Homo sapiens: one gene and its partners. The main gene of each other region encodes a partner of the protein of the gene in region 4 in a complex. Each region holds a gene or a part of one and is shown on either strand. Other genes may lie near its edges.

Evidence for each region.
Region 1: CACNA1S (region 4) and CACNB3 share a complex: the UniProt entries of both Homo sapiens proteins name them as parts of the calcium channel complex.
Region 2: the proteins of CACNA1S (region 4) and STAC2 are in contact, whole or in part, in a crystal structure (PDB 6B27), measured with the Homo sapiens proteins. Residues at the interface, in NP_000060.2 of Homo sapiens: Glu749, Pro750, Glu751, Ile752, Pro753, Ser755, Pro756, Arg757, Pro758; in NP_945344.1 of Homo sapiens: Tyr301, Lys302, Phe303, Gln306, Glu307, Asp310, Asn326, Asp328, Trp329, Phe340, Pro342, Asn344, Phe345.
Region 3: CACNA1S (region 4) and CACNB2 share a complex: the UniProt entries of both Homo sapiens proteins name them as parts of the calcium channel complex.

Annotation. Positions count from the first base shown.
Region 1 is NC_000012.12:48,814,189-48,821,511, reverse strand, and holds the start of CACNB3 (voltage-dependent L-type calcium channel subunit beta-3), read right to left. Parts: upstream 3,017-7,323; 5' UTR 2,583-3,016; coding exon 2,538-2,582; intron 2,467-2,537; exon of another isoform or gene 1,570-2,466; intron 1-1,569. UniProt on the Homo sapiens protein: Regulatory subunit of the voltage-gated calcium channel that gives rise to L-type calcium currents. Increases CACNA1B peak calcium current and shifts the voltage dependencies of channel activation and inactivation.
Region 2 is NC_000017.11:39,222,924-39,230,178, reverse strand, and holds the start of STAC2 (SH3 and cysteine-rich domain-containing protein 2), read left to right. Parts: upstream 1-4,233; 5' UTR 4,234-4,676; coding exon 4,677-4,766; intron 4,767-7,255. UniProt on the Homo sapiens protein: Plays a redundant role in promoting the expression of calcium channel CACNA1S at the cell membrane, and thereby contributes to increased channel activity. Slows down the inactivation rate of the calcium channel CACNA1C.
Region 3 is NC_000010.11:18,535,402-18,542,423, reverse strand, and holds part of CACNB2 (voltage-dependent L-type calcium channel subunit beta-2), read right to left. Parts: intron 6,324-7,022; coding exon 6,228-6,323; intron 4,245-6,227; coding exon 4,059-4,244; intron 3,231-4,058; exon of another isoform or gene 3,195-3,230; coding exon 2,700-3,194; 3' UTR 1-2,699. UniProt on the Homo sapiens protein: Beta subunit of voltage-dependent calcium channels which contributes to the function of the calcium channel by increasing peak calcium current. Plays a role in shifting voltage dependencies of activation and inactivation of the channel.
Region 4 is NC_000001.11:201,060,420-201,067,441, forward strand, and holds part of CACNA1S (voltage-dependent L-type calcium channel subunit alpha-1S), read right to left. Parts: intron 6,575-7,022; coding exon 6,468-6,574; intron 5,898-6,467; coding exon 5,810-5,897; intron 5,527-5,809; coding exon 5,419-5,526; intron 2,096-5,418; coding exon 2,043-2,095; intron 1,672-2,042; coding exon 1,525-1,671; intron 1,050-1,524; coding exon 848-1,049; intron 398-847; coding exon 239-397; intron 1-238. UniProt on the Homo sapiens protein: Pore-forming, alpha-1S subunit of the voltage-gated calcium channel that gives rise to L-type calcium currents in skeletal muscle.

The DNA of each region.
Region 1 (7,323 bases), on a different chromosome or scaffold from region 4:
TAATCTTTATTTTTATTATTTTATTTATTTACTTAGAGACAGGTCTTGCTCTGTCACCCAGGCTGGAGTGTAGTGGCACAATCGTAGCTCACTGCAGGCTTGAACTCCTGGGCTCAAGCGATCCTCCTGTCTCCTGAGTAGCTACGACTACAGGCATGCGCTACCATGCCTACTAGTTTTTTGTAGAGACAGGATCTTGCTATGTTGCCTAGGCTGGTCTCAAACTCCTGGGCTTAAGCCATCTTCCTACCTTAGCCTCCCAAAGCATTGGGATTATAGGCATGAGTCTCTATGCCTGGTTTAATTTAGTAATTTTTTTTTTTTTTTTGAGATGGAGTTTCACTGTGATGCCCAGGCTGGAATGTAATGGTGCGATGTCGGCTCACTGCAACCTCTGCCTCCCGGGTTCAAGCAATTCTACTGCCCCAGCCTCCTGAGTAGTTGGGACTACAGGCATGTGCCACCATGCTGGGCTAATTTTTATATTTTTAGTAGACACAGGGTTTCACCATATTGGCCAGGCTGGTCTCCAACTCCTGACCTCAAGTGATCTACCTCGGCCACCCAAAGTGCTGGGATTACAGGTGTGAGGCACCGCTGGCGGCCTAATTTAGTAATCATAACGCCTGAGGCATCTGGCTTACCTGACCTCTCACCCTGGGATGGGAATCACAGGATCTCTTCCTAAATATTTAATGAGTTGTGCTCAGAATGGAACCCCCTCTCCATTACTCCCAAGTCCTCCAGGCTCACTCATCTCTAGTGCTCCAGTATTACTTGGGGAGGCCAGGGCTGCCCTGCCAAGCATGATCTAGGGTCTTACCTTTCCTGTACCCTGCTACGCCAAAATAGCCAGAGTTTCAGTACTTTGGAGCTGCCAGGAGTTGGCACAGTGCCCTGGTGGTGCCCCCCTTGCCTAGTGAGTGTGTGGGCAGGCTGCAGCTCCTCTCTTGCCTGGCACGGGGGAAGGAGAGGAGGGAGATGAGCCGTTGGATTTATTTAGAGCCTGATCTCCCTCCTACTGCTTCAGAGGGGGCCTCAGGGAGAGCAAGGAGCCAGGCAAGAGAAAGGGAAGTGGGGGAGGGTGATCAGAGCCAGAGAGAGATGGGAGGGAGCAATGGGTCAGCAGGCTGCCCTCCAACACCATCCACATGTCAGTCTGCTCCTTGCAATAGCCCTTGCCTTCTCACCAGGGATGGGAAGAACCTCCTAGGGCCATCCAGCCCCACAGAGAGGTTTGTTTTCAAGCTCACCTTGGCACCCTGGGCTATACCAGCTGTCCCTTCAACTGTCAGAAAGAGGTGTCCACCAGAGCCTTGAAAATGATCTGATCTAGCGGCAATGTAATTAGCCCCAGAGGCCCCATGGAGAATTGGGCCCAGAAGGAGACCAGTCCCAGAAAAGGACAGTTGCCTATTCTGAACATCAGCATTCATCTATCCTGGGCCTGGCAGTAAGTGATGGGAGAAGACTTGAACATGAACTCCTCTTTCCGACCCAGGGGTGCTCCAACCTATTGGGGCCCCTTCCAAGCCATCTAGTGGTCCACTCCTAAGGAGGCCTTCTTACAGGACATTTGAGGGAAAGTTGTCAGCTCCAAGGGGCTGAGAAGCTGCTCCGCATTCTTGCCCCATCTTTCCAGGCACTCTCCCTGCTGTCTGAGCTCCGGGAATCACTGCTTAATGAGCTGATTTGTCTCAGTGGGTCAGGAGATAAAAGCAAAGAGGAGAATTAAATATTTATCGGTTGCCTGTTTCTCTGAGCAAAGCGCTTCCTCTCCATCCCCAGGCCCTCAGCTCCTCTGGCCTCACCTCCAGGCCCTCCATGCTGGGCAAGAGCTCAGGATGCCCGCTGCAGAGGAAGCCTCAGCAGGGGGCTGTGGAATAGATGGGGCTCAGTCACCTGGCCTACCCATGTGCTGGGCGCCCAGGTTTCAGCCTGGGAGAGAAACTGGGCTAGAGAAAGGGTGAGGAGATGAGGCAATGCGCAGAGATGGAGGGGGTGGAAGGGAATAATGGAGCTCCTCAAGTTTTAGGATCCGTCTGTCTGAAGAGGTTGGCCCCTGGCTCCCTGATGTCCTCTCAGCTCCCTGATGTGTCGTTTGCTTGAGGCACAAGAGGTCTAGAATGTCTGCCTCCCCAACCACCTCGGCGGCTCTCCTAGCTGTTGTGTTCAGACCCCAGAAATCCAGAATTTGGAACTCCAGACATGGCGTGTTCCCTCTCCAGAGCCTCTGTGCCCTCGGCCTCCAGCCCTGCCTTCTCCCACCCCTCTTTCCTGGGCCGTGGAGCCACCTGCTTGAGCCCTTCCCCTATACTGCCCCCTCTCTGCACACACCCGATGCCCCAGGGTCTGAGTCTGGGTCGCTGGGGAACGCTTGGCATGAAAATCCATCTCCCCACGTTCTTAGAGCGCCCCCCTACAAACCCTGCCCTGCCACTGAGGCGTTTTTCAAAGTCCTGAACCGGGGAAAGGGTTGAAGGGAGAGGAGGTGTCACCCCAACTTCCCCGCCCCCACCCTCATCGTGGGCACTCACCGCCTCCGAGTCCTCAAACCCGGGCACGTAGGAGTCGTCATACATGGGGGAGTCCGGGTCGGGGGAGCGAGCGGCGCCGGGGGCGGGAGCGGCCCGGAGGCAGGGGCAAGGACTGCGGGCCGCGCCCGGGAGATGCCACCGAGCCCCGCAGCCCTGCGGGCGGCGGCAGGGAGCGAGAGAGCGCGAAGGAGGGAGCGAGCCGCGAAGACCAGCTGCTCGGAGCTCAGATCACCGCTCCCCCCACCCCACCCCCCCAAACCCAGCCGGTCCCACCCCGAGCGCGGCTGAGGAATCTGGCGCCGGCTCCTACAACAATAGTGCCCGCCCACCTGACCCCCTCCCCGGGAGAAGGCGGGGGCGGCGAGGGGGCGGCGGCCACCGGGGAGCCCGGGCCAGGCCGGGAGAGGGGAACGAACCCGTGCTAGGTGGAAGGTGGGTCCCCGAGCACCTACGGGGCCGTGGCGGCGGGGAGGAAGGGGAGGAGAGGCTGCGGGCAGGGCGGATCCAGGCAGGGAGGAGGCGGGGCGAGGAGAGATGCGGAGACAGAGACGCTCGGCAACCCAGGAACTACTCCGCCGGGAAACAAAGGGCTGCGGCGGGGGAGGGAGGGGGCGCTGAGACCGCGAGGGAGACGCGACCCGGGCGGAGACTGGAGAGGGCGCAGGTGTCGAGGAAACCGGAGAGAGAGAGGCAGAGGGAGGACGGAGAGGACAGGAAAATGGGGAGACCGTGGGAGACAGAAGAGGCGCGGGAACGAGCGGCAGACGGGGGAGGGGTCCCAGGCGACAGCAGGGCGGGTCTGGGCCCGTGCGTCCCGGAGGCTCCGAAAGCAAACCCCGCAGTGGTCCCGGGGAGGAATGGGCTTGGTGCCCCCAGGCTAATGACAGGACGGCAGCTCCTGCCCCAACAGGTGCCCGGCCCCCTCAGTACGGGGACGCTGCGGCAAAGGCGGTGTTGCCCAACCCTTGAGAAGGGGGGAACTTTCCGTGAGCTGGGTAGGCCTCCCCACACCTGTTGCACGGATAGATTTTGTCTTAGTCCTGCCAGGATGGGGGTTCCCTTCCCCACTTCCCTGCCAAGGATTGTGCCAGACAGTGCCAAGGCATCCGTGGGAACTGGGGCAGAAAGGGGCTGTTTTAGGTGAGCCTAAAGGGAAGGGGAAAGAAGCCAGAGGGTGGAGGTAGGGGGATAGTTGTGGGTGGGATCCTGGCTACACTCGGGTTGGGAGAGGAAAGGGCCAGTCTCCTCGGAGTCACTAGGGTAAGGCCAGATTCTCCCCTTAGCAGAAGGGCTTGTACCACTCTGCACCACTCAGTCTCCTTTACAGGAGCATTGAGATTTGGGGTAAGAGAGCCGCAGCCCTTATCTTGAGGAAACTTTCCCCAAAGATCCACCCATTTGAGCTCTTTCCTTTTTTCATCTCCTGAGCAAAATTCCTTCTTTGATTTTTGACTGCCTACCTTTGTGCCCCACGAGGAGGATGTGCGTAGACAGGGGTTACACTTGGAGGCCTCCTGGTGCCCATGCTCTTGGCCCTGAGCTCAGTCCTTTTCCTTCCCAATTTCTCACACCCGGGAGTTCAGCAATCTGCTCATCCCTCCTTGGCTTGAGGAGAATCAGAAATCCAAAACTCTGACATGGCTTAGTAAGATCTATGGTAGAAAGCACTGTGCATGGGAGAGAGAAAGCCCACCCAAACCAAGTGGCTTCCCACCTGGGTCACTTATCGGTGTTATCTTGGCAAGACAAAGAAGAGCTGCATCTTCAGACTGACATCTTTAGTCTGTCTACTGTGGGTGGCCCAGAGCAGCCCTGCCCAGCACCTTCCTCATGCTGGGTTTGACAAACAACTTTGTTGCAGCCCCTGTGGCTGAAGGGACTGTCTCCTCTCCTGAGTCCAGCACCAACTGGGGTTTGGTCATATACTGGATTCTTCTGTATTGGAAGTTCCCAGACACTGCCCACTTTTGTGCCCTCACCCAGTTACGCAGTATTCCTTGTATCCCCCTCTTTCATCCTTTCTCTTCAATTCCTTCTTTCAGGGGCCTGGAGAGGTGTCAAAGAGTAAGACCCTCAAGGTGCTCTTCTCCTGGGAGATGGCTCTAGTGAAGAAAGCAGTGGTGGAGGCAGCTGTTTCTCTTCCCATCCCTGCATCCACTCTCCTGGCCTCTCCTTTTGGGACTCTCTCCACCCACAGAAGGTCCTGGGGCTGTAGGTAACAGCGGATCTGCCATCGGCAGCACTCCTTCCTCACACTCCTTGTAATCTCCTGCGACAAGGTTGTCTAAGTCTGCTCCTGAGGCATGTGTTGCCATGCCAACCATCCCCAGGAGATGGGTTCAAGCTCCTCATACCTGGGCCCATCCCCTGGGTCCTGCAGTAGCTTCAGAGCTTCCCTCCTTCTTCTCATATCTCTGGGTTGCTACCCAATGTTCCTTTCATTTCTCACCCACACCTGCCTACTCTAGTTCTAATACCAACTTGGTGACTTCTTGTCCTGTGACAGGACATGTGCCTGTCAGTGTCCATGTAGCCCTAACCTCTTTTCTTTTTCATGGCTGGGCATAAAGGGAGAGAGCTGAGGGCAATAAAGGATCAGGGGAGAGGCTCCTCCTGCTGATTCTTTCTAGGAGAGAGTTGTTAGACTGGCAGCTGGCAGGTACCCAAGTCATAGAAGCAAGACATAAGAGGAAAAGCCTGAATAATCAGGTTTGGGAGCTGGAATATATTGAAACCTTCTTGGGAGGTTTCAGAATATATTCTAGCTTCTCCTCTAAGTGTACCAGGAAGCTGGGCAGATCCCAGTCCCTGGGCACTGAATGGGGAAACTGAGACAGAAGCTAGGCCTTCTGGGAAGACTTAAAGACTCCTCCCCAGCAGTTTTTAAGATCTGGACCAGGTGGAGGCCCCTACCATTCTGGCTGCTAGGCTGCCAGGGAACTCAGGGACAGGCGCTAGGGGAGCTTGGCAGAGCCCTTCTTGTAATCTAGCCCCTTTTTTTCTGGCTCCTCAGTCAGTCCTCTCCTCTCATCCAATCCCAGTACTAGGAAGCTGCCAGCTCTGGCCGCTCCCTCCTCTCTAACCCGGTGCCTCTTCCACCCCTGGCCTCACTTCCTCCGGTTTCCCTGCCTCCCCATCGGTGCAGTCTCCCCCAAACGCGTGCCCCCTTCCTAGCTTGGAGCGGAGCTCTCCTCCCACCCAGTGGGGAACCCCCTTCCCACGACCCCACACCCCCCCCACGGTTACCTCGTTCAGCAGGAAGGTTGCACTGGAGTCAGAAAAAGACATAGACCAGGCTAGCGGCCTCTCCCCCTCCCCCGGGCCAGGGGCTCCGAGGCGGGAGCAAAACCCGGCCGCTGCTCTGCACGCTGCTCCCGCCTGCACGCCTGGCCTCGCCCCACGCCCGCCGGGCTCCGCCGCCTGCTCCCTTCCCTCTCCCCTGGTTCCCTCCCTCTTTCTCCTCCCTCCTCCCTCCCTCCCTCTCCCTTCCTTTCTCGCCGCCTCTGTCAGTCTCTGGCTCTCCCTGCCTTTCAGCCCAGCCTCTCTCCACTTCCGTCTCTCCTGTCTAAGGTCCTCGTTCTGTTTTTCCGTGTGCCTCCCACTGTCCTTCCATCCCCACGTCGCACCCTCGCTCCTCGGCTTCCCCTGCCGCTCTGCTTCTTCCCTAAAGTCCTCCCGAGAAAGAGTAGGGACTCTGGAGTTTCCGCCGCCGCGGGCAGAAGGGCAGGAAGAGCTCCAGGGCTGCCCCAGCTCCTGAGCTCTTGGCGGAAGCTTCTGCTCCCTCCCGGCCCTGCTCCGTGCGCCGGCCGCCCATCCTCCGGCGGCGGCTGCGACCCCGACCTCGGCGGGGGAAAGGACCGAAAAGCAAGAGTGCTGGTGCTCTGCTCGCCCGCCCAAGCGTCAAGGCGCCCATCCACCCGTCCCCGGCTCGGCTCTGTGTCTCCAGAGGGATCGGCATCCCTGTGGAGAGAGCCCAGCTGGGATCGCCCCGCGCCCGCGGAGTCTCTGCCGTCTCCCCCCTCTCCTGGGTTCTGGTGCAGCGGGTCTCAGCTCCGCGAAGGGGAAGGGCGAGGCGAAGCGACGCGGCTCCTTCTCGACCCGCTGCAGCGCCCCTTGGGCTCGCTGGCCCGGCGGCTACACGCGCCCTCCAGGTGGCGGCACCGCCTGGTGTCCGGTCCCGGGGCCGCAGGGTCCGGCCCTGCCAGCAGGCGGCGCTGCCCAGGCCAGAGCAGGGGGGACGCACCCCGGATCCAGACACCGCCCAAGCCCAGGACGAACCCCTCTCCCCCTCCTTTCTCCAGGAACTGCAGTCCCAGCTCGAGACCCCCAGTAGGAGACCCCAGGCTGCGCTCTACTTATTCCCACCCCGTGGGGCTCCTTCGAGACACCCGCGCCCTTCCGGGACCCTAGCCCGTCCCTACCTCCATCCTGGTCTCGAGGGGCGCCCCAGCTAAGCCGGGCAGCGTCCTGGCCGGGACTGGGCAGCAGGGAGTACAGAGTCGCGGGACCGCTCCTCGGGTCAGTACCCCTCCCGCCCCTTTCTGCGGGTGCGTCAAACAGGACAAGCCCAAGTTCTGGCGGGGGAAGGGGGAGCGGGGGTGTAGTTCCAGTTGGCTCTCTCTCTGGACCCTTCTGAGCGGACAGACCGCTCATTGGTCCCTTCACACCCCCAACGACCCCAGGCTGGACCCTTCTCCAGACCAAAGACGGCGCCTGGGGCGGGGAGAGACGGACCCCCCTTCATGGAGACAGACACACGCTGACTCCGATTGACCCAGGTCCCCAA
Region 2 (7,255 bases), on a different chromosome or scaffold from region 4:
CTGGGATTACAGGTGCCCACCACCCCATCTGGCTAATTTTTTGTATTTTTAGTAGAGATGGGGTTTTGCCACGTTGGCCAGGCTGGTCTCAAACTCCTGACCTCAGGTGATCCACCCGCCTTGGCCTCCCCAAGTGCTGGGATTACAGGCATGAGCCACCTCACCCAACCTGTCCATCTCTTTACGTACATTAACTCATGTAATCCTCAAAAGAGTGCTAAGAGATGTATCATTATTGCCCTCATTTTAATCCAACTCCTCATTTCAAACTAATCTAATCCAATTCTGCCAGTCTGACAAGAAGGAAACTCAAGTACCTTTAGAGATAGACAGCTCTCTGCCCAAGGTCACAAAACAGGAAGCAAAAGGCAGAGCTGGGCTGAGGACTGGTCTCTCTTCATGTGCTAGACATTGTGCTGCATGCAGATTTGAAGTCATCCCTGTCCCAGGGCTCCCAAGAGCCCACTGCCCACTTTCCCAACAAGAGGCACCCCAGTAGTTCTATTGCCACTTCTGAGGGAGCCCTCCAGAGTGTGGCTGCCATTCATCCCCCCGGCAGCACCTGGCCCTCGCTCTGCCTGCCCCTCGTTTCTACCCTCCGAATCTGAGATGGGGCAATGCTCCTTCCTTCCCAGGAGAGGCTGGCCAGGCTGCTTCCGCCTCGTCTCTGATCCACTGCAGTGGGAGTTGTCAGTACTAAGAGCAATGACTCAGACTTAGTTCAGGAGAGACCGCTCTGAAACACAAAGGCTGCAGGCCAGGAAGGACATCGAGAGGTCATGGCATCCATCCCCCTGCCTCCGCCATGCTTGCCCCACCTCAGGCTTCTGATGTCCAGACTAGATGAGCCCCACAGTCCTCCAACTTCCCTGGCTTTCCTCGGTTGCCAGAACTACGGGTTCCCCTGGGAATTCTTCTCTGTATCTAGTTAGCATCTCTTTGTCCAGGAATCACCACTTCTGGGTTGGTTACCCCACAGAATACCAGGCTCCAAATGGCCAAGGAAAGTGAGAGAAGGAAGCGGTTTTCTTCTCTCTGCCTCAGAGAAAGCACTGGGAAGGGACAAATTTCCCAGAAGAAAGGAGGGAAAGAAAAATAATGGCCGGGCACGGTGGCTCACGCCTGTAATCCCAGCACTCTGGGAGGCTGAGGCGGTCAGATCATGAGGTCAGGAGATCAAGACCATCCTGACTAACACGGTGAAACCCCGTCTGTACTAAAAATATAAAAATTTAGCCGGGCGTGGTGGCAGGCGCCTGTAGTACCAGCTACTTGGGAGGCTGAGGCAGGAGAATGGCGTGAACCCGGGAGGCGGAGCTTGCAGTGAGCCGAGATTGCACCACTGCACTCCAGCCTGGGCGACAGAGCGAGACTCCGTCTCAAAAAAAAAAAAAAGAAAAATAATGGACTTTCCTTGACTAGACGTGGTGGCGTGTGCCTGTAATCCCAGCACTTTATCGGGGAGGCCAAGTCAGGAAGATGGCTTGAGGTCAGGAGTTCAAAATGAGGCTGGGCCAACAAAGTGAGACCCCCATCCCTACCAAAATAAACACTTTTTTTTTTAAAATAAATTTTCCTGTCTTGTCTTCCTGTCTTGTCTGGGCTAAGTGCCACTCTACACTATCTCATTCATTCTAGCAGTGGGGTAGGCACGATGACTATTTTTCAGATGAAGAAACCAAGGCTATAGGCCAGACACGGTGGCTCATGCCTGTAATCCCAGCACTTTGGGAGGGTGAGGCAGGTGGATCACCTGAGGTCAGGAGTTCCAGACCAGCCTGGCCAACATGGTGAAACCTCTCTCTACTAAAAATACAAAAAATTAGCTGGATGTAGTGGCGGGCACCTGTAATCCCACCTACTCGGGAGACTGAGGCATGAGAATCGCTTGAACCAGGAGGCGGAGGTTGTGGTAAGCCGAGGTCCTGCTATTGCACTCCAACTTGGGCAACAAAAGCTAGACTCCGTCTCAAAACAAACAAAATCTCTAAAAGATTGAGTTATCTGCCCAAGGTCACACACTTAATTAGTGACCAAAGAGGTACTGGCCCCTAAGGAACCCAAAGCCCCTGCTCTTTGGGAGGAGACAGGGGCACCTCCCCCAGAAGATCTCCAAACTCAGAAGAAGGCCCTGTGTGTTCCAGCCCAGGATAAGTGGAGGGCCTGATGTTGCTGTCTCAATGCTGCAAGCATCCCAGCATCTGAGCTGCCCAGGGAGGGAAGGCTGGACTGGCCTGGGCTGGGCAGGAGTGAGAAGGACAGTCCAGTGGGAGATGGGGGAAGGTTGGCCATGAACAGGCCTTTGGGGAGACTGATTTGATGGCACTCAGGCTCCATCCCACCTTCCTCAGGAAATCTCGAAGTCAGAGCCCCTACAACCATGAACCCTCACTGTGCCCTTGTCCTACTTCTGCCACTGGCAAATAAATCTCTATTCCTGGACAGGGTAACCTGAGCAGGGCTCCAATGGTGAGCTCGTGCTTGGGAGGGCAGAGATCCTATGAATGGCTGTGTGCATGGGGGGAGGTGAGTGGGGGGTGGAGGTGTTCACCCCACCCCTCAACTTTCAGGCTAGCATAAGGGCCCCCTTCAGCACCTCAGGCCCCCCATGTGGCACCCCCCACCCACAATCTTACCACCCACAGCAGAGGAGGAGGGAGACTTAAACCCAGAAGTCTCTCCACCCACACCAGGGAAAGGTTCTCTCAGCCACCAGTGCATCTCCCTTTTCTTGGGCAGACCAAGAGAGGAAGCCAGATCTGCTGGTCAGAGCCAGAAGGGGCAGAAGGAAAGAGGGCTGGAGGTGAGGGAGGGGGACCTGAGAAAATGGGTCCCAGATAATCAACATGCATTAGAAGAGGTATCTTGGTCAGGTGTGGTGGTTCACACCTGTAATCCCAGCACTTTGGGAGGCTGAGGCAGGAGGGTCACTTGAGCCTAGGAGTTTAAGACTAGCCTGGGCAACATAGCGAGACTCCATCTCTACAAAAAATTTTAAAATTAGCTGGGTGCAGTGGCATGTGCCTGTGGTCCCAGCTACTTGGGAGGGTTGAGCCCAGGAGGTCCAGGCTACAGTGAGGTGTGATCAAGCCACTGCACTACAGCCTGGCCAATAGAGCAAGATCCTGTCTCCAAAAAAAAAAAAAAAAAAAAAAAAAAAAAAAGAAGAAGAAGAGAAGGAGAAGAAGAAATATTGGAAATATCTTGAACGGGCACAGTGGCTCACGCCTGTAATCCCAATACGTTGGGAGGCCAAAGTGAGAAGATCGCTTGAGCCCAGGAGTTGGAGATCATCCTGTGTAACATAGCAAGACTTGTCTCTACCAATAAATTTTAAAAATTAGCCAGGCATGGTGGCGTATGCCTGTGGTCCCAGCAACTAGAGAGGCTGAGGTGGGAGGATTGCTTGAGCCTAGGAGTTTGAGACTGCAGTGAGTTATGATCGCACCACTGCACTCCAGCCTGGGTGAAAGAGTGAAACCCTGTCTCTAAATAAAAAAATAAAAAAATAAAAAATAGAAGGTTATTGTGGAGAGAGGGGCACCTTGGAAGGTGATGGTGAGGACCTCTTCCCCCACCTCTCTGTATTATCCCCTGATCTAACTCCAGTTGTGGTAGGATCTTTAGGAGGGGAGCGTGTCTCAGAGAAGTTTGGGGACTTTGGGTGTGAGGACTGAGCCCCCATCTCTGCTGAAGTTCAGACGCCAAGACTGGAAGGGGATAGAGTCATCCGGCTTTCCATCACAAGGAGGAATTGTCCGGCCTGGCCTTTGACACATACACCATAGTCCAGTTGTGTGTATATTTGGAGAGAGCCTTTTCAGGGTATAAAGGCATCCAATTAATGGCACAGATGGGTCCCCATTCTTCCTTCACCAACCTCTGGCATCTATCAATCTTCGCTCTTTGGAAGTCCTAGCTTCGATCTCACTCTCCGCTATCTTGCTGCGGCCCCAACCTATTTCTATTCCCTGCAACCCATCCAGACGCTACTATGATCTCCCCAAGCTTCCCTCAATCTGGTCACGCCCCTCCATCCCGGGTTTTTCAGTGTGAAACTCCCTCCTCCGCTTCTTTCCCCGCCAAGCCCCGCCCCATCGTGTCGAGCCCCCCAAGACTCCGCCCAGTTCGCCCTCCTGGCCACCGAGGCAGCCAATAGCTGAGAGCCTGATTTGCAGGGCTGCGCGGGGGAGCGGCGTAGGGCAGGGGGCGGGACCAGGCGACCTCCTAAATCAAAGTTGGGCGGCGAGGACTGGGCGGAGGGGCCGCCGGGTGCCGGGCTGGGGCCGGCGGGGGAGGGGAGGGGATGGGGGGCGGGCGCAGCGGACGGCGGAGCCGGCTGGACACGGACAGCTCCTTGGCTCCCTCCCTCGGCTCATCCCCGCGGCCCCACTTCCCTCCTCCCCGCGCTGCGAGCAGCATCCTCTGCAGACCCTCGGTCCTCGCGCCCGGGGTCGTCCCGCTCCTGCGGCTCAGCGTGGTGGCCTCCCCTCGCCCGCCACCCCGGCAACTTTCTCTGCCCGCTCCCGCGGGTTGGGGGCTGCCGTGCCGGGGGCTAACTGGGGGCAGCCTCTGGAGAACGGCTTCAGAGTCCCGGAGACGCCCGCCACCCGCAGCCTGCCCGCGGTGGGCCTGCCGTCGGATCTCGGCACCCTCTCCTCCCCTCTCCCCGAACCATGACCGAGATGAGCGAGAAGGAGAACGAACCGGATGACGCGGCCACCCACAGCCCCCCAGGGACCGTCTCCGCCCTCCAGGAAACCAAGGTAACTTGGGGGGCGCAAGGCCTGTCCGCGCCCCGGGCCCGGGCGCCCTCTTCCCGGCGGGGTCCTCCTGTGGGCCCGGGCGTCCTAGGGTCGCGGTCGCGAGGCCCGCGTGACCACTGAGGCTCCGCGCCGCTCCCGGGGGTAGGAGTGGGTTGGCGACGAGGGGCCACAAGGAGCCCCCGATCACACCGGCACCGCACGCCCGCGCGCGCCATCGCGACCTTCTGGGGAGGCGGCCACTGGTCTTCGTTGGAGAGATGGGCGCAGCGAGGCCGGAGGGCGCGCGTGGAGCGGTGCGGGCGGGGTACGCGCCCGGCTGTGCGTGCGAGGCGCACCCTCCAGCGGCCGCCGGGTCCCAGTCCCGGGCTCAGTCCGCGCCTCTATCCTCGCTCGTGTCTCTGAATTTGTCTCTACAACCTGCGTGTCTGTGTCTTGGTGTCTCTGTGTGCGTCTCTCCCCGTCTCTCCCGGCGTCTCCGGGTGTTTATCTCCGCGTCTCAGGGCGTCTCTCCCTGCCCCTCCGCAGTCCTGCATTCCCCGCTCCTAGCCCTGTTGGGCTCGGGGACGCGAGGCCGCGGCCGGGGGTGCGCAGCTGCGGAGTCCGCGAGGGGGCCTGCAGCAGCGCCGGCCGTCGGTCACGGGCGAGGACGGGGGCCTGCGGTTGTGGCTCCAGACCAGAAAGACAGGCAGCCCCGCGCCCCACCACGGGAGCGGGACCAGAGGAGGGGGAGCGGGTAGAAGCAAAAAGAGAAGTCATCGTAATTAATGAATGTCATCATTAACCCTAATTATGGATGATTGTTACTCCTGAGGGAGTCACCATGAATAAATTACTCCCCGCGAAGGCAGGCGGAGCCCAGACTCCTGGCGCTGAAAGGGGTGTGGGGAGGCCGCCGCTCACACTCAGCACTCCCCCGACCTCTAATCCGTCTGCTCCCTTCCCAAGTTCTAGGTGCTGGCGACTGGCCCGCGAGAAGTTCTGTTTCTGCGGGATCAACCTGAGCGGGCCTGGGGTTGGGATAGAAAGGGCTGTGCCAAGGGCGCGCCCTGCCACCTCCCAGACTTCAGGCCAAGACCTCCTCCCTCCCCCTTCACCCGGTATTTTGTTCCCATCCTGCTCCTGTTCTCCAGAGGCGAAAGGGGACAGTGAGGACCAGAAATGATGGGAGCCTGGGCTCCGGAGGCGTCCTGGGTTCGCTAGGCTTCTTTCCACTGTCCCCCTTCCTCCTTCTTCCATCTTGACCATCCCGCAGGAGCTGAGGTTAATTCAAGGTCAAGGTCATCAAGGGAGTGACCGGAGGAGGAGGCCGTAGGGTCAGGGTGGAGTCTGGCAGAGGCACCCCAGGGAGCCCCCATCCTGCACCAGGGGACCCAGCAGGTCTCCACATTCAAGTCTTCACATGCACACCTGACTCTCTCTTGCCCCCTTCTAAAAATGAGACTCTGGTCTGTGAGGCCAGAGCTGACTCCCCTTTAGAGAGCCAAGTCTCAGTCTCTCCTGGGAAAGGACTAAGATGTTTGGGTGGGAGGATATTGCTTGGAATATTTGTGACAACTTCTGTCAAGCAGAAGGTCTAGGAGCTGAACCTCCCCTGAGTTCCAATGCCCCTGATTTCGGTTGCCCTCTAGTCACCTGGGTAGACATACACAGTCCCCCTGCTTGCCTCCAGGGGCTTGGGGGCCTCCCAGGCCCTGCCCTGTTTCCCACACCAAGGCCTGTCCTCTCCAGCCTCCTCCTATGTGGGAGTGCTGGAAGGCGGGCAGGAGTGTGGGGTAGTGCTGCCTCAGTACTCCAGCAAGCTGCCTGCTCAGCTGTGTGGGGAGGGAAGGTCAAGGGCCACAGGTCTGTACCTCTCCCTCTTCCCAGGCCAGGGACCCTCCAATGTTGTCACCTCTGGGTCTGAGCTTGGAGATTCAAGGAGTAGGGGAGGGGAGGGGTTACACCCCTGATCCGGCCCTTCTGTGTCAGGCCAGCTGGAGCCCCGGCCCTCCGCCCCTCCCCTATACATCACTCTTGTGAAGGATTCTGCACTAACACAGACTGGGCTGTGGGTTGGGTCGGGGGTATTCAGCAGGGCAGAGGTGGGCAGAGAGAGAACTCAGGACCCCTGCTAGCCTCCTTCCATCCTGCACCTCAACCTGGCCCAAAGAAGCTCCTGTCTCCAGACTGTGGGTGGAGATGGAAGAGTACAGTTGGGTGCCGCCCACCAAGCTCAGTGTGAGGCAGGTACAACAGAGGGGGCCAATGCCCTTCAGGCAGTGATGCCAACATTCCAGGCTTATTCATCAGTGTTGGTGCCCCCTGGGAATCACTGGCCAGCCTCCTGCTTGCCCCCAGGCTGAATCAGCCCTGCACCCAAGCCACCCAGCAACCTTCCTAGCGAGTCCTCCTCCTCTCTTGGTCTCCTTCCCTTCTTATCACATAAGGCCTGCCCATCACCCTTTGTTGCCACCCCTGGGAGGACCACCCCATGCCATCTCTGCTGTGAG
Region 3 (7,022 bases), on a different chromosome or scaffold from region 4:
TGTGAATCTCTTACCATGACAAAAGTTTTATCAGAAATATTTTATAAATTCAATTTTAATTAGAATATGGTTTCCTACCAATGTAAGAATTGTCAAGTTTATTATGACTACTGATTTTATACTCAGTAAATAAATTTATGTAAACAGTGTAGGGCTAATTAACGAACTGAGGGAAATTTTTTCATATATAAGCTGATAAAACATTATATATGTAACTAATTTTTATTTTCTTTTTTTAAACACCAGGTTGTCACCAGGCTGGAGTGCATTGGTACAGTCACGGTTCACTGCAGCCTCCACCTCCTGGGCTCAAGGGATCCTCCTATCTCAGCCTCCCAAGTAGCTGGGTCTACAGGTATACTCTACCACCCCAGCTTAATCATTTTTAATATTGCGTTTTCTTGGGGGTAAGGGAAATAAGGAGTTAAATGTAAAACAGTTTTACTTATAAAAGGCTAAGAATATTTGGTAAGAACTTGGAATAATCAAGGAAGCAAAACAAAGTAGATTTTATAATTTTGCTGGATAGTTTTTTTTGTTTTTTGTTTTTTTTTCTTTTTTGGAGATGGAGTCTCACTCTGTCACCCAGGCTGGAGTACAGTGGTGTGATCTTGGCTTACTGCAGGCTCCACCTCCTGGGTTCAAGCAATTCTCCTGCCTCAGCCTCCCAAGTAGCTGGGATTACAGGTGTGCACCACCACACCTGGCTAATTTTTTATCTTTTTAGTAGAGACGGGGTTTCGCCACGTTGGCCAGGCTGGTCTTGAACTCCTGACCTCAGGTGATCCACCCTCCTCAGCCTCCCAAATTGCTGGGATTACAGGCATGAGCCACTGCGCCCGGCTGATTTATTTTGTTAAATAAGTTAATGTGCAGATCTGAAGTTAGGTAATTATACACAGGCATTTTCCTGGGACAAACTTCAAGTGCCAGGTACTTGCACTCTTAATACTGTCTTACCATCCAGTTATAACTGGACAAAATATACACTTGAGACACGGAAAAGGTCTTAGCCTTAAACATGATGACATTGTAAGCTTCTTACAGCAGTGTAATTGAGGCATGGAGATAATGTCTTCAAGGTTCCCCTTCTGTGTACATGTCTTATGTAGGATAATATTCTTAACATTTTATTCACTTCAAGTCACCCCATTTTGCCCTGATTTCTTCTGAAGAACAGAAACTTTGGTTATAAGAAGCACTTCTGGGTTCTGACAGACAGTGAACCTGCTGGAGTCGGTGGTGGGGAGGAATGGTAGGTAACTGGGAGGTAAACAAACAACAGGAACAATAGGCAAGGTTAGAAATTGAAGTGGGAGAAGTTATAAAAATTTATTTTCCCACGAAATAATTCCACAAGCTGTGTAAACATTTCTTACTAAAACAAATACTCTAACACACAAAGATTGTACATTTCCAGTGAAACACTCACAGTAAAATTGCCTGTATTTTCACTCTCTAGGAGCAAAAACAAGGAGGCAGCAGATGAATGCTTTCCTAGTTACCTTTGGCAGCAAGCTTACTCACATTCCCTGACTGCTCAATGGGTTGTTAAAGCAACATATAGCACAATTAATTAAATACAGAGCGAGGTGGGCAGAATGCTCGATATCAGTCTCTAGTTTCTTCGTTAGTCTTCAGCATTCCAATTCATCTCAACCATTCAGTCACTCGGTGCACACTTTCTTACATACGGACACACACACGTGCATATAGCGAGTTCCGGCTCGTAGACTCCAGTGCAGTGACTAGAACAGACACTAGCTACTAAGAATGTGTCACAATCAGTGTGAACTGTATGGAGTAGAACAACCTCTGGAGTTTTATATTTACCATAATTTATGGTGGAAATTACAAACTTACTTACAAGGATGGTATAACATTCAGAATTCAAACCTTTTCAAGTCAAGCAATCACACATATTTACAGTATGTACACACTTTCTACTAGAATGAGGATAGGTGTCTAGACAATGTTATTACAAATTTCCTGAATGTGGGCATTTCTAGTCCCTGTAATTCATAAAGCAAATCTGCTGACTTGGCATTAAGACTCTAAAATAGTGTGATCAAACTGATATATATATATATTATATATATAATAAGAAGGTGTTTGTTTGCAGAAATAACATTTACAAACTGTCTATACAGTACACAGTACTAGTACATAGAAAATAGATTCTAACTTTATGATCCCCTTTGTGTAAGGCAAGACTGAATCTGTCCCCAAATTTAGTCAGCCAGAGGTACAAGCAAGAAACAGTGGTCCATGAATGAATATGCAAATCAGATGCCTGCGTATTAACGTATTAAAAATCTGGAGAAACAAGAAATTCCACTTTTTATCTGTGCTGATTCTGGCTTGTTGGATACATCAACTACATTTCTTAAAACACTAACATCACCTGGGTGGCAACAGATTTTGTTCAAGTGGCAGCTACCCAAAACAGTTTTTGAAGAGTCCAGTATGCAACCGGAGGACTGCAGCCATACCAGGCCAATTTATGTAGCACTTACAAAAGAAAAAGTATCTCAATACTCTATCCATGCTATTGCTATTCAAGCAACAGCAATAATACAAAATATTACAAGACAGATCACATATGATTGCAGTGTAGACCCCAAAGACTTTGTTTTGGGGATGCTGTTAGTTATACAAGACTTCAAAAAAAAAAAAAAAAAAACACAAACGGGCAAAACTCATTGGCGGATGTAAACATCCCTGTTCCACTCCCCAGCCTCATTCCGTTTTTTTGATATCACTTCTCCATCCTTTTCACAGTAGCGATCCTTGGATTTATGACGGCTGCGCTGCTTGTTGCACTCGTTGTGGTCCTGCTCTCGATCCACGTCCCGGGAACGGTGCCGGGACTCCCTGTGTCTGTGGTCACTGCTCCCGTGGGTCTCGTCTCTGTGGTTGTGGTCACGGTGTGAGGCATAGTGGTCCACGTGGTCATGGGAATAATCTTCCTTTGGCTCTACGTAGGCAGAGTCTCGACTCTCCTGGGTTTCCGAGTCAAATGTCTCTTGCCTGGAGAGGCCGCGACTTGTCCCACTGCGATGGTTGTGGTGTGGGGCTGAGGAGGAAGAGCGGTGCTGGGATTTCTTGACTGGTTCCACACTAGGTTCTTCTTCAGCTTGGGAAGCAGAACGGATAGGAGCGGAGCGATCAGTCCTCTGATCACCTTGAGAACCCTGGCAGCGAAAGGAGCACACCAGGCGTTAACCAAGGTCAGTGTGTAAAGAACATGTCCCAGAGCAAGTGCATTCAAGCAGAGTCCTTTTTAAGCATCCGAAAAGCTGAAATGAAGTCTAACCTAGCTTCATCCCTTTGGTAACATCCAGTGGCATTTATAAGGCTTTATACTATACTATATTAAATTGGACTTTTGTAAGTGCCTAGAACAGTGCCCATGGTAACTTTTTCCTTTAAAAAAAAAAAAGCAGCAGCAGGGAAAATGTTCTTTTATTTATTCTCCTGTGGCTCAAATACAGATGCAGGTCCCTGAGATTTTTCTATACAGCGGTGTAAACTTAACTACCTCTGCTTGACTGTATGTGAGAATATTAAAAATAGCAAATGCTTACCTGATACAGTGATACAGTATGGGACAGGCACTGTTCTGTAGACCCTTTGTATATAATAACTCATTAATACAACAGCCCTATAAGATCATCTCTTGAGATTATTAATTCCAGCAGCCTCTTGGACAGGTTGCCATTATTATTCCTGAGGTAAGAACAGTTAAGAAATTTGCCCCAGGTTATCCACCCCACAAGTGGTAAGAGGTGCAGCCAGGATTTGAATCTAGGTGATCCACTTCCACAGTCTATGCTACTGTTTAGAAAGTTTCGGTAGTCTGTGTATGTTCCCAATATATTCTGTTGATGGTGCTTTTCTTACAGGTACATACACAGCTCATGCTGGACTTGCTTTGAGTTAATATACTAGAACAAGCCCCAAGCAGGCTACTGGGCTTGGATCCTAGAGGTGTCACCATAGGCAACCTTTTTTCTATGAAGATTGTATATATAGATATATATAAAAACTCCCCTTACCTGTGAATTAGAGGCTAGGGTGGGGCTAAGAGGCAGACTTGAAGTGGCTAATGTACGGCTAAGGAGAGGGTTGGGGAGGCTACTGCTGGGAGGATGGGTGGCCTTCCAGTAGGCCTCCAGATAGTCGGCAAGGTGCTCACAGGCATCCTCAAGCTGGTTCTCATCCAAGATCACATCGAACAGCTCCTGCAGAGGCAGACATTCCAGACCACATTGATGCCAGCCCAGTTTTCACCCCCTTCCCACCTCCATAAGAGGAGGAAGGGGCTCATGAGCTGCACCCCTTTGTACTTGCTCCTGCTTCTATAAGTGCTGCTACTATCTCCCTTTTTATTTAGTTAGGAAGTGTCTGACTACCTCAAATCATTGTTGAGGGCACTGAATGCTTAACTAATAAATAATGGCCAGAAAGGTAACAGTTGTTAAGGACATGGCAACCCAGAAAAGTTGTCTATCAATCAGCAATGAAAAAGGCATAGATACTATGGTAGAAAAGAGATGTATATATATTTGAACAGAATAGAATAGAATAGGAAGAAGCCTGTTCTTGACATAAAGATTGTGATATCTTTTTTCTTTTTCTTTTTTTGAGACAGAGTCTTACTCTGTTACCCAGGCTGGAGTGCAGTGGCCTGATCTTGGTTCAGTGCAACCTTGGCCTCCCAGGTTCAAGTGATTTTCCTGCCTCAGCTTCTCAAGTAGCTGGGGTTACAGGTGCCTACCACCAAGCCCTGCTAATTTTTGTATTTTTAGTAGAGATGGGGTTTTGCCATGTTGGCCAGGCTGGTGTTGAACTCCTGGCCTCAAGTGATTCACCCGCCTCGGCCTCCCAAAGTGCTGGGATTACAGGTATGAGCCACCATGCCCGGCCCAAGATTATGAAATCTGAATTTAGAAATTAATAAGGTAAGATTAGGATGTGAAATTTTGACATTGTCCAAACTTCACAGTAGTTCAGTAGAGAAGAAAATAATGCCACTTTTCAAAAGATTTTTTAGTGTTTATTATAAATTTTAACATATATTAAGCAATCAAATATTTATAGACCCTGAAATGGCTATGCTTAAAAAGAAAAAAAAGCCTGGTGCAGTGGCTCATGCCTGTAATCCCAGCACTTTGGGAGGCCAAGGTGGATGGATCACTTGAGGTCGGGAGTTTGAGACCAGCCTGGGCAACATGGCAAAGCCCCGTCTCTACTAAGAATACAAAAATTAGCAGGGCATGGTGGCGTTTGCCTGTAGTCCTAGCTACTTGGAGGGCCGAGGTGGGAGGATTACTTGAGCCCGGGAGGCAGAGGTTGCAATAGTGAGCTGAGACACCACCACTGCACTCCTGCCTGGGCAACAAAGCAAGACCCTGCCTCCAAAACTAAACCTAGGAAAGCTCTAATACCTCAAGGCATTGCATGTAAAGCATAGACGACAAGTGAGAATCTAGGTAACTTATTACTTAGAAATTGATTTGAGACCATGTGAAAATAAATGTCTCAGACAGTTATTAAGAGCAGACAACTTGATCCCTATGATCAGAAATGAATAATATACCAACTCCAAATAGACTCATCATACAAGCCAAATTTTCGGAACCAGGATCTTGTGTTGGATATTAACAAAGTGAAGTTACTGCAGGATGTACGGAAGCTTTTGGTAAGCTATGATCATCGTTTGGATTACTTGTGCTCAAAACACATGATCATGGAAGGAGGGAGGACAGTTTACTTTGGAATGAATACCACTGTAAGTGATGAGGATTCTCTTCCCTGACAGGTGTTTGACTGTTTTTTTCAAAATATAATGCCAGTTCTGGCCAGGCATGGCAGCTCATGCTTGTAATCCTAGCACTTTGGAAGACCAAGGCAGGAGGATCACTTCAGGCCAGGAGTTCTAGACCAGCCTGGGCAACATAGCAAGACCCCGTCTCTACAGGGGGAAAAAAAAAAGTTAGCCGATCATGGTGGCATGCACCTATAGTCTCAGCTGCTTGGAAGGCTGAAGCAATAGGATCACTTGAGCCCGGGAGTTCAGGGCTGCAGTGAGCTAAGACCATACCACTGCACTCCCAACATGGGCAACAGAGCAAGACCTTGTCCCCCAAAAAAAAAAAAAAAAAAAAAAAAAAAAAAGGTCTGATCTCTGTAACTGGATTATGCTGTATATAGAGATAACTTACTGGAGGACACTGAGCCAGTTTATCAGCTGCTACCATCTGGACGTTGAGGTGTTTAGCTTGAGATTTCCCTCGAGATTTTATTAACCTTTGTAAAACCTGTAAAAGATAATGAGTTTTTAACAGAGTAATAACTACATCCAGGTAAAGTACAAGGTACATTATTGACTCCTTTCTCTGGGGCCTTTTTATATACAGCACAAGGGGCTTATAATAGATGGAGCTATAAGATTATCTGCAAAATTAACATGTTAACATAAATCACAGTTGCAAGCTTTAAGCACTCACATTTTTTCTATGCTAGCAGCTCTCAAACATTTTATCTCACAACCTCTTTAAAGAAGCTAAAATGGAAAACTATTAAAACATTTATTTAAAAATTCACAATAAATCTGATACATGTTAAAATATATATATATATATTTTTGAGATGTAGTCTCGCTCTGTTGCCCAGGCTGGAGTGCAGTGGTGCGATCTCGGCTCACTGCAAGCTCCACCTCCCAGGTTCACACCATTCTCCTGCCTCAGCCTCCCAAGTAGCTAGGACTACAGGCACCCGCCACCACGCCCGGCTAATTTTTTTGTATTTTTAGTAGAGACGGGGTTTCACTGTGTTAGCCAGGATGGTCTCGATCTCCTGACCTCATGATCCTCCCACCTCAGCCTAGTAGAGTGCTGGGATTACAGGTATGAGCCACTGCGCCCGGCCGAATTTTTTTTAATAAAAATAGCTACATTTTTACACATCTCTCTAATGGCTGGCTGGCTGGCTTCATAGAAGACAATTGCAGTCTCCTG
Region 4 (7,022 bases):
CCTGTTTGCAGAATTACCGTACTATTTTTATGCTTGAATTACCTCCTTAATAAACCATAAGTGCCTGGTGACAAGGCCTGTGCGCAGTTCACTTCTGTATTCCATGTAGCACCTCAGCACACAGTGCACAAGAAATGTCTACTGGGGGGAATCCTGGCTATCCTGCCCTACTCATCCTGCCCTACCCAAGGCCCAGGTCCCAGTCTGATCAGACATTTTTCTCCTGGGGAGCCCTTACCTGCATGCCGAGGCAGATGGTGTTGAGCATGATGAGGGCAAACATCAGGTATTCAAAGTAGGAGGAGGTGACAATGTACCACACCTGGTACTGGTATGGGTTTTTGGGAATGTAGCACCTCAGTGGGCGGGCCTTCAGGGCATACTGTACACATTGGCGCTGTGACACATACAACAGGACAGGTCAGCACCAAGAGGCCCCTCCCTCCCTCTCCACACCCACATCCATGGGATTGACGGGCAAGTCAGGAGCAGCTGTGGCCAGGGGCTGTGGCTGAGGACTGTGAACTGTTTAGGGGAATAATCCTGTTGGGCTTTGGGTTCCCCTTGAGTTATCACAGCCCATTCCCATGGGTGCTATAGACTAGACTGTGGGTCTGAAGGGCTTCCTTTCTCTGGGCATCATGAGGTTCCACAAGAAGACCCACTCTACCAACTTGTATTGCTTCAGTTTGGAGATAGGGTAGGGTGCATGGAGGCTAGGGCTTGGCATCAAATGCAGGTTCTGGGGTCACCCTTAGGCCTCTCTTCCCTGGCTGAACCTAGGGCTTGGGCCAGCAGGAGGCCTGCTGGAGCTCTGCCCTCCACCTCTGGCAGGCAGCCCAGGCACCTGGTTCTTGTCCAGCTCACAGTTCTTGTACTCAGTCTCTCCCTGCTCCTGGAAGGTGACAATGACGAAGCCCACAAAGATGTTCATCATGAAGAAGGCAATGAGGATGATGTAGATGATGAAGAAGATGGCCATCTCCACACGGTTGTTGTAGATGGGACCCACGTCCTCCGCATTGGAGTCTATGGCCTTGTACAGCAGCCTGGGGGTGGGCAGAGAAGAGAGGACAGACTGGGTGGGGTGACAAGGCAGAGAGTCAGGCTGGGAAGGATGGGCTTTATCCCACTGGCTGTGGAGAGCCAAGAGAGCCTTCTCAACAATCAAGTTACGGGACAGGAGTTAGGTCGGCGCCAGGAAAGACCAGACCCAATCCTGGAATGGCCCTGCCTTTCAAGAGGTTGCCCCATCTATCCCTAATCAATCAGTATTAACAATCTGCCCTGTGGGCAGAGAGGCATACACCTATGGGGGACTGCGTGCATTTTGTCAGAGACCCCTGGTCAGGCCTACTTTGGAGTGACCAGTCAACATACCATCAAACCATCAGAGAGTTGGTGGGTTTGTTGGACGCCTGCCACAGGTAGCAGTAGCACCGTGGGGGCTGCAGAAGGGCAGGCTGGCTGCCTGGTCCTACCTGACCATGTCCATGAGGGACCTAGGCCCCAGCCATCACTCACTGAGGCCATCCCTCGAAGGTGGAGACCGTGAAGAGGGACATCATGGCTGAGAGCACATTGTCGAAGTGGAAGTCGCTGTGTACCCACTCGCGGTGACGCAGCTCTATCTGCATGGGGTCCCCGTCCTTGTACACGTAGTAGTAGCCCCTGTGGCAGGGAGGCCCAGTCACTCCACAGGGCATGGCTGGGCTGCCTTGCCCCACCCACATCCTCTGGGCCCTGGGTGGGGAGTGTGAAGGAGAAATGAAGTTCCAGATCTGGGACCCAAGGGGACACCGCTGGGCGAGTCCGAGGAAAGGGGCCTCTGTGAGTGTCCCTCCTAAGCCTAAAGGCTGAGCTTCCCCAGTTTCCAGCTTGAAGGGCCGTCATCCACCAACACACAGTCCCCTGCCCTGTGATCGTCCTGCCACACTCCCTGCCCCGTGACCGTAACCCTCCCACAGTGCTCCCTGCCCCGTGACTGTCCCACCATGCTCCCTGCCCCGTGACCGTCCCACTGTGCTCCCTGCCCCATGTACCTGCACTCCTCCTCTGTCATCTTGGACAAGTCGGTGCACCTGAAGAACTTCCCCTGCAGCCAGGAAGAGGGAGGGAGGGAGGGAGGCATGTTGTCATGGAAACAGGATAGAAAAGTGGGCTCTGGGAGTGAACAGTGGAAGGGGGGAGGGAAGGCAGGCATCTGAAAAAAGGAGCCCAAGCCCATCTCTTCCTCTCAGAGGCGTGAACTCGCCCTTGGGGCAGGGCCCCAGAGCAGCCTCCTTTCTTCACCATCGTTCATTCCCACAGCTCCCCCAGGGCTTCCCCACCCAGCCTAGATGCTGCCAAGACCGAGAAGGCAGTGCCTCAGAGGGGCATTTACTGAGTGCCCCCTGATGGGCTGAGGGGATGGACATGAGTGCAGCTTGGCCCCTGCCCCTCCCTCGGGGAGCTGAGCCTCTGAGCCCCTTACCTCCCGCACTGCTGCAGGAGGCCTTCTGTGGTCTCCCATTATGGAACAAGGAGGAGGGGCTGCCCACCTCCCACCTCCATCCTCCTGCCAGTGGGGCGGGAGCAGCAGAGTTGGAGCCCAGCTGGGCTCTGATGACTCAACTTGTCTCAGAGTCAAGCGGGGTCCCATGTCCCAGCCCAAGGCCCAGGTAGGGGGGCTCTGTGCTCCTCTGCACTGACTTTGGCCAGAGCAGTTAATCCTTTTTTTTTTTTTTCAAGGCTTTGCAGATTATTTATTATAGAATTTTTTTTAAATTATACTTTAAGTTTTAGGGTACATGTGCACATTGTGGCAGTTACTCCTTTTATCTGTGTCTCAGATTGGGTCCCTGAGCAACATGTTTGAAGGAAAGTAGTGGATGGCTAGGTCTTTTTTTTTTTTGTTTGCTCACTCTGTCGCTTAGGCAAGAGTACAGTGGTGTGATCTCGGCTCACTGCAATCTCCGCCTCCCCGGTTCAAGCAACTCTCTGGCCTCAGCCTCCTGAGTACCTAGGATTACAGGTATGTGCCATCATGCCCAGCTAATTTTTGTATTTTTAGTGAGAAGGGGTTTCACCATGTTGGTCAGGCTGGTTTTGAACTCCCAACCTCAAGTGATCCGCCCGCCTCGGCTTCCCAAATTGCCGGGATTACAGGCATGAGCCACCGCGTCCAGCAGGATGGCTAGGTCTTAAAGAGGCTAAATCAGGCTTGAGATCCACGGATTCTGGTGCAGTTCCTTCAAAGACCCAGATAGGGAAACTGCCTCGGCCAAGGACACAGCACTAGTTGAAGACACAGCTGGCCCTTGCCCCCCGCTGCCCCTGCCACACAGATCTGTGCTGTTCCTATCACATGCCCTTTTTATGGTTGCTGGAGCAGAAGGTGAAGGTGAGGCGGGTGGTACTGGGGGTAAGCAGAGAGTGGATAGAGCTGCCACTGGGCAGGGTCTGGGCACTTAACACCAAATGCCCAGTTTACTATGGAAAGCAAAGCTTGACTCTGCTATAATGTGGAATGCACGTGGTGTTTCCACAGAGTCAAAAGCGACATCAAATGCCAACTGGAACTGTTATGCTTCTAGAACCTCCTGGAAGGCAGGAGCTGGGGGTCTTTTAATGAGAGACAAAAGCATGGCGAGAGTTGGGTGTTGACAAGCAATTGCTCTTGCTTGTCTGGAAGGGACGTGGAAGCCAAAGGGAGGGCAGCGGCTCATTCATTCCTTCAGGGAGCGTGTCTGGTGGGCCTCCTCTGCACCAGGCCCTGGGCAGGGGGCCAGGCAAAGGGATGAGGCAGACACAGACACTGCCCTCAGGGGATTCTGGGGACCCAAGCTTGGCAGAGGAGGGGGCTGGGGAGCAGGAGGTGGACAGCCCTCAGTTGGGCCAGGGGGAGAAGGCTGCACGCAGCTGGCAGAGTGGCCAGACACAATAAACACTCCCATCCCTCCCGTCCCTCCAGGACAGGGACCAACAAGACCTATTCCCCGCGAAGATTCTCTAGGGGCTCCACGCTGCTGCTTCTCTCAGAGCCTGTTCCCTGCCCTCAGCGAGGATTTGGCTTGTAAGGCCCTCAGCTCTAGCAGAGGCCCTGGCTCAAGTATGGAAAACATACTCCATACATGTTTGTTGAATGAATGAATGATTGTAAGATGATGCCATTTCATGTCTAAGACTGACTGGGGTTATGTAATTATGACTTTGAAAGATCGTGCTTTGGTGATAGGAGGAGCAGCTGGGTCATGCAGGAAGTATCAAGGGTGTTGGTGTATACTTAGGAATCAATTTCTCTGTCCTGCAAATGATCTGAGAGCCAGAGACATCTGGAAATCAGGGTTTGTGTGAGGGACATCTTTGTAGGGCTAATTCCTAGAGAGGAACTGAATAGCTGTGTTCTCCTAGGAAAATGAGAAAAGTATAAGGTTGGCTCCGGATGTGAGATGATGAACTCCCAGCCTTAGAGGCTCCTGGTAGATGTGGATGATGCCAGACATACCAGCCAGGAAGATGGGCTGCCGCAGCCCAGCTGCACTGACGGAGGCGGAGTGTGGGGCTGGGATAGGGCGTATGCTTGGCACAGGCCTGGCAGGATGGGAGGAAGCGGGCAAGGGTGGGAAGGGAGAAGAATGGCTGTGGGGCCCTGGGAGGAGGGGCCTCCCTCCCCAAGGAAAAGCCACGTGGGGTAGGGAGAGAGCAGATACAATGGCAACAGTGGTCAGCAGTCAACCAAGAGGCCCGGGATGGATGTCACTGAGGAAACTGGATCTGGACTTGCCACATATTAGCCTTAAAACTCTGTGCATTCAGTTGAAGCAAATTCACTTTGAGTCTCAATAATGTGTTGTGTTGCTTGTGTATTTAATTTTTAAAAGAGCTTAAGATAGTTGCTGTCAGGTTTTCATTTTAGCTTATTAGATCTCTTAAAGCTATTAACCATCATTGAAAGATGGCTGTCTCTTAAAAGTTTGATTTAGGAGAGTTGTATTTATAGATTGAAGTTTCATAGTCATATTTAAAAGATGGACATCAAACTAACCGTTTTCTTGTTTTGTTTGATAGAATTCTAAGTGCATGACAATAGCTTTAAGAGATGGGGCTTGAATTGTATTTAAATTTCAACTCAGTAGACACATGACCCTCTGCTACCATTTCAGTAGTGTTAGAAGCCCATTGACTGTTTCTGAGATTATCATTGGGCTGCTTTTGTGGAACTCAAGGTGCTATTTAAATGTAACGATGTCTTACTGGCTTTCTGCAAACTTATGTGTTTGGTGTGGTGAAGACCTATTTTTCAAAATAAAATATTCTCATATGGAAATCTGTGCATTCGAAGACATCTGTTTTCACAATGTGGGGCTCCTTGTGCTTGAGAGTGGGCACCAGGGCTGGGAGCGGGAGGGGGAGCTGCTCGCGCAGGCTGGGGCTCACCTTGAAGAGCTGGACGCCGATGCAGGCAAACATGAACTGTAGGAGGGTAGTGACCAGCACGATGTTCCCGATGGTGCTGATGGCCACGAACATGCACTGCACCACGTGCTGGGGACAGAGGGGCCAATGGGGACTGGGGGTGCACCCACAGTAACCCTGCTAGCCCAGTTGAGGAAACCCCAGGAGTGCAAGACTTGCTGCCTCCTGATGAGTTGGAGGTGGGGAAAGGCTGGTGGGGAAGCATAGCTACCCCAGCCTCATCCTTACCCCTATCTGCCCAGGGAGATGGGACAGGGGTCCCAGCCATGGCTGGGCTGAGGTTTCTGGAGCGAGGAGGCCCCTGTAACCCCTCCCATTCCTCTCTGGGGCTCCTGCCCGGGCCCTCTCTCACCTTCAACCCCTTGGCTCTGTTGATGGCTCTGAGTGGTCGGAGCACCCTCAGCACCCTCAGGATCTTCACCACGGAGATGGCACTGGACCTGGGGGGCGGCAATGGTGAGGGGGCTGAGGGCAGCCTGCTCCAGCCAGCCCAGTCTGCGGTGGAGCCTCCAGCCATATCCTGCCCTCCACACCAGCTGCCTTTCTGCCTGAAAACACTCCCACCTTCCCCTTCCCTTTCCTCCAGCCGTGAGAGTGTGCCCGACTCCAGGGCACAGCCACCCCTGCTATCTGGACCATGCTCTCATGGGTGTGTCATGAAGCAGAAGACAGCCTTCCCCTGTGGGTGGCTAGAAGCTCCGTCCCTCCCGTCAGACGGTGAGCACCCCAAAGGCAGGGGCTGTGCTCCCCACAGGGTCGGGGAGGGAGGGACCACTTCCTCCTCTCTGCATCTCCTGCCAGTCTCTAGAACAGAGCGCTGCCCACTTCACTGGTGGCAACCCACATTCCAGCTGGTGACAACCCACAGGACCCCCTGCCTCCATCGGAGGCCCCGAGAGACCCTCCTCTTGTGGCAGGGGCCCACCAACATGGGTGGGACTCCCACTACAAAGCCCTGGCACAGAGCAGAGGGTGGTCTGTGCCCAGGGCTGGCCCTTGCCGCTGCTCACTCAAGTCCCATGGAGATGAGGGACACGGCCACCACCAGCAGGTCCAGCATGTTGAAGTAATTGCGGCAGAAGGAACCCTTGTGCAGGAAGGCTCCGTAGGTCGTCATCTGGGGAGAAAGAGGCAGCAGCCTGGATGGAGGAGCTTGGAGAACAGGCCTGTCTCCCACAGACAAGGGCTTCTCGCCTCTGCTCAGGAGAGCACTTACTGAGGCAATAGCCTTCCAGAAATCTCTATATTTCACTCAACTCCTTGCAGTGGCCTAAATGCATTTCCTATCTCTGCTCGCAGTTGTTGAAATGTGAGGACTTCTCACGGGCAGCTGGGCCAGAAGTCTCTTTCTTTACATGCCATAGGGAACCCTGGGTCTCCTTTCCCATGGGGCCACAGAGTGGGGGAGCCCTGGCCCTACTGTCTCCTGTGGGACATAAAACTTCTCCTTCCTGGAAAGCTTCTTGGGCAATCCCCTCTGCCTTGTGGTTTGCTAAGTCAGGCTGAACAAGCCCTCCAGGACTCTAGGGGTCCTAGGCCCTCTCTCCTCCCTCTCCACCTCCTTC